3 linked regions of the Homo sapiens genome follow. The protein of the gene in region 3 purifies or fractionates together with the protein of the main gene of each other region. This does not show direct contact. Each region holds a gene or a part of one and is shown on either strand. Other genes may lie near its edges.

Region 1 (3,655 bases), on a different chromosome or scaffold from region 3:
TTTCAGTTGTCTTTGAGACTACAAAGTCTCAAAAATTATGGATAATCAGAACCAAAATAATTTAAACCAAAAATTTTTAAGTTAACCTATTAAAAATTGGTTTCTTAATTTCATAGTCTTTAGTAAGTGGCATTAAAATAGAAGAACTTGAAGGTAATTTAATTAAAGCACTATTAGCCAATGCTCCAATATGGAACATTCTGGTTTCTACTTAGTTATTATGAAAACTCTGGAAAAGATTAATAAGTAGATTGTTTAAGGCTTTTCCAGAGATGTATGTTTTATTTACATTTTTGCTGCTGAATTCTCACTTTTTCTGTCCTGCAAACACTGTTTTTAAAAACTCTATTGGCCTCTTTCTAAAGCCTTGTCCAAAAGACAGCTTTCAAGAAGAGATTCTTGAGTGACTGCTCATAGGTATGAGGTTTCTTTTTTGGGTGATGAAAATGTTCTGGAGTTAGGTAGTGGTGATGGTTGCACAACTTTGTGACTATACTAAAAATGTCTGAATTGTACACTTTAAGAGGGTGAATATTGCGGTGTGTGAATTATATAAAAATTTAAAAAACGAGGTTCCCTACATAGTAAACTTCTCTTCAGTAGGGTAAACGAATGCTAAAACTCTGAGACCTCTGTCAGCTGAAGTCATAAGAAAACTGCATATTTGTTGGAAGAAAATAAAGAAATGAAGAGCTGCTAAGCATGAATAAGGACTGTCTCTAGAAATTAAAGGGAAGCTTTTAATAAACACATATTTTTCTCTCCCCGAACTTCCCTCCCCCAAATTCAGGAGTTGGCCGAGGAAAAGATATCTCCACCATCACAGGTCATCGTGGGAAAGACATCTCTACTATTTTGGATGAAGAAAGAAAAGAAAATAAACGACCCCAGAGGGCAGCTGCTGCTCGAAGGAAGAAACGCCGGCGATTAAATGATCTGGACAGTGATAGCAACCTGGATGAAGAAGAGAGCGAGGATGAATTCAAGATCAGTGATGGGTGTGTGGTCTCCTACTAGGCCCCGATCCCTAGATACCAGCAGGAACAGGACTGGGCTAGCAGAGAGGCTTGCCCATGCTGTGATGAGGGTTTTCTTCTTCATGTACATAGACAACCTCTGTTTATTTTCAGGATATTTAAAGCAGATTCAAGAATACTAATTTTGGCCCATTTTTAAAGTTTAGAACAGAAAATAGATTTATGGTTGTTTAACATTCAAAATTGTATTTAAATTTTACTAACTACAATTAAACTTTCATTTGTTGAGAGCTTTCTCTGTACCTCTGTGCCACCTTCTGCCAGGTCCATGAGGGGTTTCCAGTCCTATGTGAAAAATAAATAAGATATTATCCTCTCATGACTCATAGAAGTTGGACTTGGGACTGGTAATCCAGTATAGAAGATCAAGAAAGGCTTCTTTGCAGAGTTGGAATTGAAACAATACTGCAGAGTTTCTCCTTTCAGATTATTAGAAGAGGAAACAAGTATATAAACCACAAAAAAAAAAAAAAGTCATTCTGCATAACTGCTACTAAAATACAGGGAAAGATAAATTAGGCTACAGAGGAAAGTTGGCTTAATCCAAAGAGTAAACCTTAAAGTAGAAGTAAAGCTTGATCTGAAATTTGAAGAATGAGTATTTGGAATCAACAAGTATGAGACTAAAAGCAGGATAAGAAAAAGGTATTCTAAGCATAGAAGTCACATGTCCAAGACAGCAAGCCGTAAAATGTCATAGAATGTTTGGGAAACTCCTGTTGGCTCTGGATAGCAGGAATAAGGGGATGAAGTAGAGAGTGCCCTACTGGAGATGTGGTCAAGTGATAAAAAGAGCCAGATTAGGGAGTGTTTTATTTGTCATGCATAAGTGTTTTGACTTTATCCTGAAAATTATACAAAACCAGTGAAGGGTTTTAAACACTAAATTAATATGAGATTTATGCTTCAGAAAGATTCATCCTGGCATTCATTTGGAGGATAGATTGAGGGGAAATGAGACCAGATATTAGAGAAACTATTTGTGGAGTTGCTTTTGTAGTTAAGGTGAGTATGAAAAGCTGAAAACAGAAGAGATCAGGTTTGAGAGATTATCTTTTAAGAGGTAGACTCTAGAGAAATTATTAATTTATTGGATATGAGAAATGAAAAGGGGAAAGTTAGGATAAATACCACGTTTCTGGTTGGAGTTACCGGATGAGTGATGGTGCCAAATACCAGGCCAGGGAACAGAAGAGAGAAGTAGATTGGGAAATAATGAATTCACTTTTGAATATGTCGAATTTAACATGGGGGACATCCCAAGAGGTCAAAGCAGTACAGAAATCAACATTAATTCATCTTTACAACCCCTCCTAAGAGGATAGGTGGCAAAACATTTTCCCCATTTTATAAATAGGGCATTTGATACAATTATCCAGATATGTTGCACTATACTTAATGATTCACTGGGCTCACCAGAATTTGAACTCAGAACTCTTAAAAATGGGTTCACTCTTCTAAATACCATTGTATTTTATCTGATTTCTCTTGGACAGATCTCAAGATGAGTTTGTTGTGTCTGATGAAAACCCAGATGAAAGTGAAGAAGATCCGCCATCTAATGATGACAGTGACACTGACTTTTGTAGCCGTAGACTGAGGCGACACCCCTCTCGGCCAATGAGGCAGAGCAGGCGTTTGCGAAGAAAGACCCCAAAGAAAAAATATTCCGATGATGATGAAGAGGAGGAATCTGAGGAGAATAGTAGAGACTCTGGTAAAAATAATCTGTAACCATATGGTAGCTCAATAAATTATTTTTTGTTTTTCTTGTTGCTCATGCTGGAGTGCAATGGCACCATCTCGGCTCACTGCAACCTCTGTGTCCCGGGTTCAAGCGATTCTCCTACCTCAGCCTCCCAAGTAGCTGGGATTACAGGCATGTGCCACCATGCCTGGCTAATTTTGTATTTTTAGTAGAGAGGGAGTTTCTCCATGTTGGCCAGGCTGGTCTCAAACTCCCGACCTCAGGTGATCTGCCCACCTCAGCCTCCCAAAGTGCTGGGATTACAGGCGTGAGCCAGCACGCTGGCCAGCTCAACAAATTCTTATGACTTCTGGAGTTAAGAGTTCTTAAAATTCTGTTCTTAAGACTTATTTCTGACTAAATTTTTCTCATAGAAAGCACATCTGAGAAAATACATACTGATTGATACGTTAACTTCATATCAGATGCCTAGTAGGATTGTGATGACTCCTTGGTTGTCAAATGTTTCCACTCCTAAACCTTCATCTTCATAGGGTTTCTTGGAAATCATTCTCAATAAACTGTGAACATTTCCCTCAGATGCCCAGCTGTTGGAGAGAGAAGAATACAAGTTAACTCTCATTTAGACCACAGTCAGTGTTGAGTAGTTTTTACAGATTAACAGTAGTTGATGTTGTTATAGAGTATGCTTATCCCTATTAAGTGAGTAAATAGAGGCTCAACCGCTACAAGAAATGAATGCTTTATGTAATTGGCAAATTGATAGGTGTCATCTTATTAGAGAAGAACCATAGATATGAGTATCAGACTCTGGCCATCCTTGTGGGTTTTTTTTGGTTTTATTTATCTTTTTTCCTAAACCATCTAAATAAGTGATGATAATATCATGCCCCTTTATCAGTGATTATTT
Region 2 (3,655 bases), on a different chromosome or scaffold from region 3:
AGGAGTAGGGCAAACTACAGTTTGAGGGGCCAAATGGCCCATGACCTTTTTTTTTTTTTTTTTGAGACGGAGTCTCGCTGTCGCCCAGGCTGGAGCATGGTGGCGCAATCTCGGCTCACTATAACCTCTGCCTCCCAGGTTCAAGCAATTCTCTGCTTCAGTCTCCGGAGTAGCCGAGATTACAGGCTCCTGCCACCACGCCTGGCTAATTTTTATATTTTTAGTGGAGATGTGGTTTCACTCTCTTGGCCTGGCTGGTCTTGAACTCCTGACCAAAGTGCTGGGATTACAGGCGTGAGCCACCGTGCCCAGCTGACCTTTTTTTTTTTTAATGGCTTATGTGCTAAGAATGGGTTTTACATGTTTAAATGATTGTAGAAAAAAAAACACAGCTCAACAACCAAAAAAACAACTCGGTTAAAAAATGGGCAAGCCAGGAGTTTGAAGTTACAGTGAGCTCTGATCACGCCACCATGCTCCAGCCTGGGTGACAGAGTGAAACTCTGTCTGTAAAAAAATTAAAAAAAAAAAAAGAAAAAGACAATCTCAATAGACATTTCCCCAAAGATGATGTACAAATGGTCAATAAACACATGAAAAGATGCTCAACTTCACTAGTCATTAGGTAAATGCAGATCAAAACCATGTTGAGGCCAGGTGCGGTGGCACACGCCTGTAATCCCAGCACTTTGGGAGGCCGAGGCAGGTGGATCACCTGAGGTCAGTAGTTCAAGACCAGCCTGCCCAACATGGTGAAACCCCGTCTCTACTAAAAATACAAAAATTAGCTGGGCGTAGTGGCAGTTGCCTGTAGTCTCATGTACTCGAGGAGGCAGGAGAATTGCTGGAACCCAGGAGGCGGAGGTTGCAGTGAGCCGAAATCGTGCCACTGCACTCCAGGCTGGGTGATGGAGCAAGACTCCATCTCAAAAAACAAACAAACAAAAACATGTTGTGATACCACTTCACACCCATTAAGATAGCTATTATGAAGACAAAAACAACAACAACAACAAAAAAAAAACCCTGGTGTGATGGCTCATGGAGAGGCTAATGTGGGAGGATTGCTTGAGCCCAGGAGTTCCAGGCTACAGTGCGCTATGATTGTGCCACTGCACTCCAGCCTGGATGACAAAGCGAGACCTTGTCTCTAAAAATAAAAAGTAAAAAGAGAGAGAGAGAAATAAATGTTGGTCAGGATGCAGAGAAATTGGAGCCCTGTGCATTGTTGGTGGTGCAGATAATGTTAAGATGGTATGGTGAGTCCTCAAAAAATTAAACATGGAATTACCATATGACCCAACAATTACCATATGATTCATATGGTAATTAAATATAGAAGTAATATGATCCAGCAACAGAAACAAACACAAAACAACAAAGGAGAATATACAACAAAGACTATATGTAGCTCCCTAAAATTTTTACTCTCAACCGGGGGCCTTTACAGAAAAATCTGCTCATCCCTCTTCAAGTTAGGGACAAGTTCAACTCTGCCTTTCTGTACACAGAACTAGCCTTTCTGCAAATGTTCTTCCCTCATATCACAACAAACCTAGCAGGCCAAAAGTGAGCTAAACACCACCTTTCATGGGGATTTAACAATCAGCCATTCTCCTTGTTCCCCATCCAGCCCTAGAGGATACAGGCAGGGCATGGTGTGGTTTTTTTTTTTGTGGGAAAGCCTTAAGTTGAGGACCTGGGTTTCGGGTGGAAGTGCTCCTAGGGAGAGGATCAGTCTGCTAGAGCCTGAAGCAGCGAGCACCAAATTCTTTTTTTTTTTTTTTTTTTTTTGAGATGGAGTCTCGCTCTGTCGCTCAGGCTGGAGTGCAGTGGCACGATCTCGGCTCACTGCAAGCTCTGCCTCCCGGGTTCACACCATTCTCCTGCCTCAGTCTCCCGAGTAGCTGGGACTACAGGCGCCCGCCACCACACCACCATGGCTAATTTTTTTTGTATTTTTAGTAGACACGGGGTTTCACCGTGTTAGCCAGGATGGTCTCTATCTCCTCACCTCGTGATCCGCCCGCCTCAGCCTCCCAAAGTGCTGGGATTACAGGCGTGAGCCACCGCGCCCAGCCAGCAAGCGCCAAATTCTTACACACACACTCACAAGGCGGGGCACCACGGCTGCCAGAATGAAGGATTAAGTCGTGAGTTAACGCTGTTTGCAAACCTTCAAGAGAGATTCCAAAGTAATCTCAGGAATTACCTGAGTGACTGCAGTGACCGTCTAATCCTTTTCCTATTTCTGTTCTTGATCCTTTTCACACAGCAGCCAGAGTGAGCCTTTATAATGTAAATCAGATTTTGTCACCTCTGGTCACAACTCCCAGTGGCTTCTCTCAGTCTTAGAATGAAATCTGAAGTCCTTCCCCTGGCCCACGCGGCCCTTACTGCCTGTCCTGCACGTTCCCTGCCACCACTCTCCCCTTTGCTGACTGTGCTCCAGCCACATCAGTCCTCCTGATATTTCCTACAACATTGTGATAAATAATGTATTTAACGCAAAATTTACTGCTTACCATTTTAATCCTTTTTGATTAAAGGATTCACTGGCATTAAGTACATTTACATTGTTGTGCAGCCATCACCACCATCCATCTCTACAACTTTTCCATCATTTCAATCTGAAACTCTGTACTTAACAAAGAGTGACTCCCTGTTCCCTCCTCCCCCCAGCTCCTGTGAACCACTCTTCTACTTTCTTTCTCTATATGAATTTGACTATTCTATGAACCTCATATAAATGGAATCATGCAATATTTGTCCTTTTGTGTCAGGCTTATTTCGCTTAATTAACATCATGCTTTCAAGGTTCAGCCATGTTGTAGCATGTGTCAGAGTTTCCTTTCTTTTTAAGGTTGAATAATATTCCATTTTATGTATATACCACATTTTGTTTATCCATTCATCTGTTGATGAATATTTTGGTTGTTTCCAGCTTTTGACTATTGTGAGTAATGCTAGTATGAATGTGGGTTAGAAATTTGTTTGAGCCAGGTGTGGTGGCTCATACCTGTAATCCCAGCACTTTGGGAGGCCAAGGGTGGTGGATTGCCTGAAGTCAGGAGTTCAAGACCAGCCTTGCCAACATGATGAAACCCTGTCTCTACTAAAAATAGAAAAACTAGCCAGGCGTGGTGGTGGGTGCCTGTAATCCCACCTACCCAGGGGGGTGAGGCGGGAGAATTGCTTGAACCCAGGAGGCGGAGGTTGCAGTGAGCCGAGATTGTGCTACTGCCCTCCAGCCTGGGCGATAGAGCAAGACTCCATCTCAAAAAAAAAAAAAAAAAAAAAAGAGATCGGCCAGGTGCGGTGGCTTACACCTGTAATCCCAGCACTTTGGGAGGCTGAGGCAGGTGCATCACCCAAGGTCAGGAGTTCAAGACCAGCTTGGCCAACATAGTGAAATCCCGGCTCTACTAAAATACAAAAATTAGCTGGGCATGGTGGCGGGTGCCTGTAATCCCAGCTGCTAGGGAGGCTGAGGCAGGAGAATCGCTTGAACCCAGAGGCGGAGGTTGCAGTGAGCCAAGATTGTGCCATTGCACTCCAGCCTGGGCAATAAGAGCGAAACTCCATCTCAAAAAAAAAAAAAGAAAGAAATCTGTTTGAGTCCCTACTTTATGAATTTTTTGTGGTTGATGAAACA
Region 3 (3,688 bases):
TAATGCCTTTTTGAATATATGTAGTTGTATCATGTAGGATGCCAAAAGGTTTGAATTTAGTAACTGATCTAATACTGGGCTTGATTTTTTCTATCACAGAACTGTAACTCCCAAGAACAGGGTATTTTCCGCAGTAATGTGAAAAACCTGGTTAATGGTTTCATGGTGTTAATATGCCACCTAGTGGATCAACTTGCACATTCTAACTTGGGGTTTTCAGAGTTGGAAGTGTTCATTTTCCTTTATCAGAATGGCTTGCTCACTAGGAACACCAGCTGAGGTCCAATTACGATAAATCCACTAGTTCCTGATGTTGATATTGCTGATTTTTTTTATGCTCAAGAATTCATTATGAGGGAATTGATAGCAGCAATCATTGTCAGTTTAATTTTTTGTATGGTCTTTTTTATTTTAAAGCTTTTTAGGTGTTTAGAAAGCAAATAGTTGGTTTTTATTTTATTTGGACACTTTTATGCAATGAGGGTTGATGTTTCATGGATTTCTGTGAGAAGGAGAAACCAATTGATAAATTTGCTGATATAGATCTCTAGAAAGGCAGGGAGATTTTTAAAAGAAGATGTAGTAGGATACTTTGAATAGCAGAAACGATTTGCTGACTTACACAATATAATAAGCTCATTCTTGGCTACACACCTGGTGTGTTTATTTCTTATAAACTTTATAGCTTCACTTCTAATTTAGAGTTCCCAATTTTCATCACATATTGTCAGTTTAAAAATAACAAGCGTAACAGCTGTTGTAGAATGTTTATGTACCAGGTATTGTGCCAAGCACTTTATAGAAATGATCTCCAATCCCCACAAAACCCCAAATTAGTACATTATTTCCATTTTAAAGAAGAAGAAATGGGCTCAAGTATTGACACTAATTGCCCTCCATCTCACACAGCCAAGAAGTGTTTGTGCCTGGTAGCCTTTGGTCCAAGTCTCCTTCATAGATCTGAAGCATCTTTTGTCATCACAGAATTATGTTTCCCTATTCTTAAGAAAAGTGGGATCAGCAAATATCAGCTTTACCTTAACGGACTCATTCACGTTTGAGCCCATTTCCCGAGAAGATAATTACATATATTACGTTTTAAAATAAGGCATATAAAAGAACCACATTCCTGTGATAGCTCCCTTTTTCCAAAATCTGACTGCGTTTTTAAAGTTACTATTAGAGAATAGAGAGCCTTGCTTGTTGGGTGTCTGGGACATAAAGTCACAGAAAAATAATTGCATGTTTGCACCATTTAGATCTCACATGTTTAAGTGGTGCAAACATGATCTCCTTCAGGCAATGAGCCATGCTTGCCCAGTGAGCTTGCACGTGGTAATGGGAGAATCCCTCTGAGCATGCATCTCCAAGGCCAAGTGGGCCACAGCAGTTGTGAGTGAGAGGAGGCCATAGCGTCCTAAACTGATCAGACTTGCCAAGTATTCCTACCTGTGGCAAGGGGCTGAAAAGCCCGTGGACTGTACCTTAATGTTGCTTAACAATCCCTGAGGTAGAGAATAAAAGGAATTGTGGAATAACTCTGTGACTTGCCTCGGTTTCCTGATGCCCAGAAACATCTATCTCATTGGTCATCGAGATGAAATGAGGACTGTCCTGGGAAATGGAGTCTTCCTGATTTTAACAAGGTTCTGAAGCAGAAGCAGAGACAAGATTTACTATTCAGGCCTTCTTCCAAAGCCCATTTCCACTGCTCTTCAATAACTGCATCTACCAAATTCTGAATGTTCTCTTCTTTCCCCAAATTCTAACTAGGTTAACTTCATACCAAAACCAGTGTATGACAGTTGAAATAGCAGTTCTTAGAGGTTGTAGTTTCCTGTGTTTTCTTCTGGTTACCATTAACATGGGTATATGTAAAGAATATATATTGGATATATGTATGCTGAATAAAAAGTAGTAATTCATTTTCACCAATGAAATCACAGAGCATGATGTTTCCTAGATAGAGGAGGCTCATGTTTTATAACTGTATTGTTTCAGTTGAGGAAGGAAGGCAATTCTCCAGCAATGCCTTCTTCCTCCACTAGGAAAAGCTTTTACTTTCCTGGTGGTCTTTTTCTACTTGCCCACTAATTATAAAGAACATAAATTATAGATTTAGTAATTACTTGTTTCTTCCCTGTTATCCCCCTTTTGGCAAAGAGCAGAACCAACATAATTTTACCATGCTACCACTTTATTCCCAAATTTATCAGCATAAAATCTAGAACATTTCCAGAATCCTTCTTTCCCTGGTGAGGGAAGGAACAGTAGCTGAATATAAGCTTAACAAGAGTGCAGTGGTGGGATGTTGAATTTAAATGTGTATGCATGACTCGTAGATTTCTATTCATATATGTCAAAAGGAATACTCTAATAAAAAGATTCATTTGATTTTTATTTTAATAAAAAATATATAAATGAGTTCATAGCAGCGCTAATTATACAACTTCTGTCTCTATTTGCAGGTGATAAAAGAAGCCATGGTTGAAAGCATTGAATATAGAAGACAGAATCCATCTCGTTGCTCTGTTTCCCTTAGTAATGTTGAGGCAAGAAGATTTTTCAACAAGGAGTTTCTAAGTAAACCCAAAGCATAGTTCATGTACTGGAAATGGCAGCAGTTTCTGATGCTGAGGCAGTTTGCAATCCCATGACAACTGGATTTAAAAGTACAGTACAGATAGTCGTACTGATCATGAGAGACTGGCTGATACTCAAAGTTGCAGTTACTTAGCTGCATGAGAATAATACTATTATAAGTTAGGTTGACAAATGATGTTGATTATGTAAGGATATACTTAGCTACATTTTCAGTCAGTATGAACTTCCTGATACAAATGTAGGGATATATACTGTATTTTTAAACATTTCTCACCAACTTTCTTATGTGTGTTCTTTTTAAAAATTTTTTTTCTTTTAAAATATTTAACAGTTCAATCTCAATAAGACCTCGCATTATGTATGAATGTTATTCACTGACTAGATTTATTCATACCATGAGACAACACTATTTTTATTTATATATGCATATATATACATACATGAAATAAATACATCAATATAAAAATAAGCATGAGATAACTGAGTTTTTTGTTAATTTTTAATGAGATATTGGACTATTGCTATGAAAGATTCTCATATTCACTGCTTTCAAACGCAAAAGTTGTTCATCCTAAACTCAAGTGTGAAACTTTTAATTTAATTTAATTAATTAATTAATTTTTTTGTGAGACAGAGTCTCACTCTGTCACCTAGGCTGGAGTGCAGTGGTGTGATCTTGGCTCACCACAAGCTCCGCCTCCCAGGTTCAAGCGATTCCCCTGCCTCAGCCTCCCGAGTAGCTGGGACTACAGGTGCCCGCCACCACACCCAGCCAATTTTTAGATTTTTAGTACAGACGGGGTTTCACTATGTTGGCCAGGCTGGTCTCAAACTCCTGACCTCTTGATCTGCCCGCCCCAGCCTCCCAAAGCGCTGGGATTACAGGTGTGAGCCACCGCGCCTGGCTGAAACTTTTAATTTTAAATCATAGGTTTTTTTTCTGAAAGATGAATATATAATTTTTTCAGAAAATGGTATATGTTTATTCATTAAGTAGAAAATATATGTGTAACCACTTCTAATGTAACATTTCCCTTGGCTAATATTATCCTGGACTGCTTATCCAACAACCAGTGTAGTTGAC

The links.
Region 1: the proteins of PLA2G4A (region 3) and RSF1 fractionate together in Homo sapiens (co-fractionation; one large-scale study listed by BioGRID). This does not show direct contact.
Region 2: the proteins of PLA2G4A (region 3) and DNAJC17 purify together in Homo sapiens (affinity purification with mass spectrometry; one large-scale study listed by BioGRID and IntAct). This does not show direct contact.

The regions. Positions count from the first base shown.
Region 1 is NC_000011.10:77,674,135-77,677,789, reverse strand, and holds part of RSF1 (remodeling and spacing factor 1), read left to right. Parts: intron 1-790; coding exon 791-998; intron 999-2,533; coding exon 2,534-2,754; intron 2,755-3,655. UniProt on the Homo sapiens protein: Regulatory subunit of the ATP-dependent RSF-1 and RSF-5 ISWI chromatin-remodeling complexes, which form ordered nucleosome arrays on chromatin and facilitate access to DNA during DNA-templated processes such as DNA replication, transcription, and repair.
Region 2 is NC_000015.10:40,797,364-40,801,018, reverse strand, and holds part of DNAJC17 (dnaJ homolog subfamily C member 17), read left to right. Parts: intron 1-3,655. UniProt on the Homo sapiens protein: May negatively affect PAX8-induced thyroglobulin/TG transcription.
Region 3 is NC_000001.11:186,985,909-186,989,596, forward strand, and holds the end of PLA2G4A (cytosolic phospholipase A2), read left to right. Parts: intron 1-2,468; coding exon 2,469-2,600; 3' UTR 2,601-3,073; downstream 3,074-3,688. UniProt on the Homo sapiens protein: Has primarily calcium-dependent phospholipase and lysophospholipase activities, with a major role in membrane lipid remodeling and biosynthesis of lipid mediators of the inflammatory response.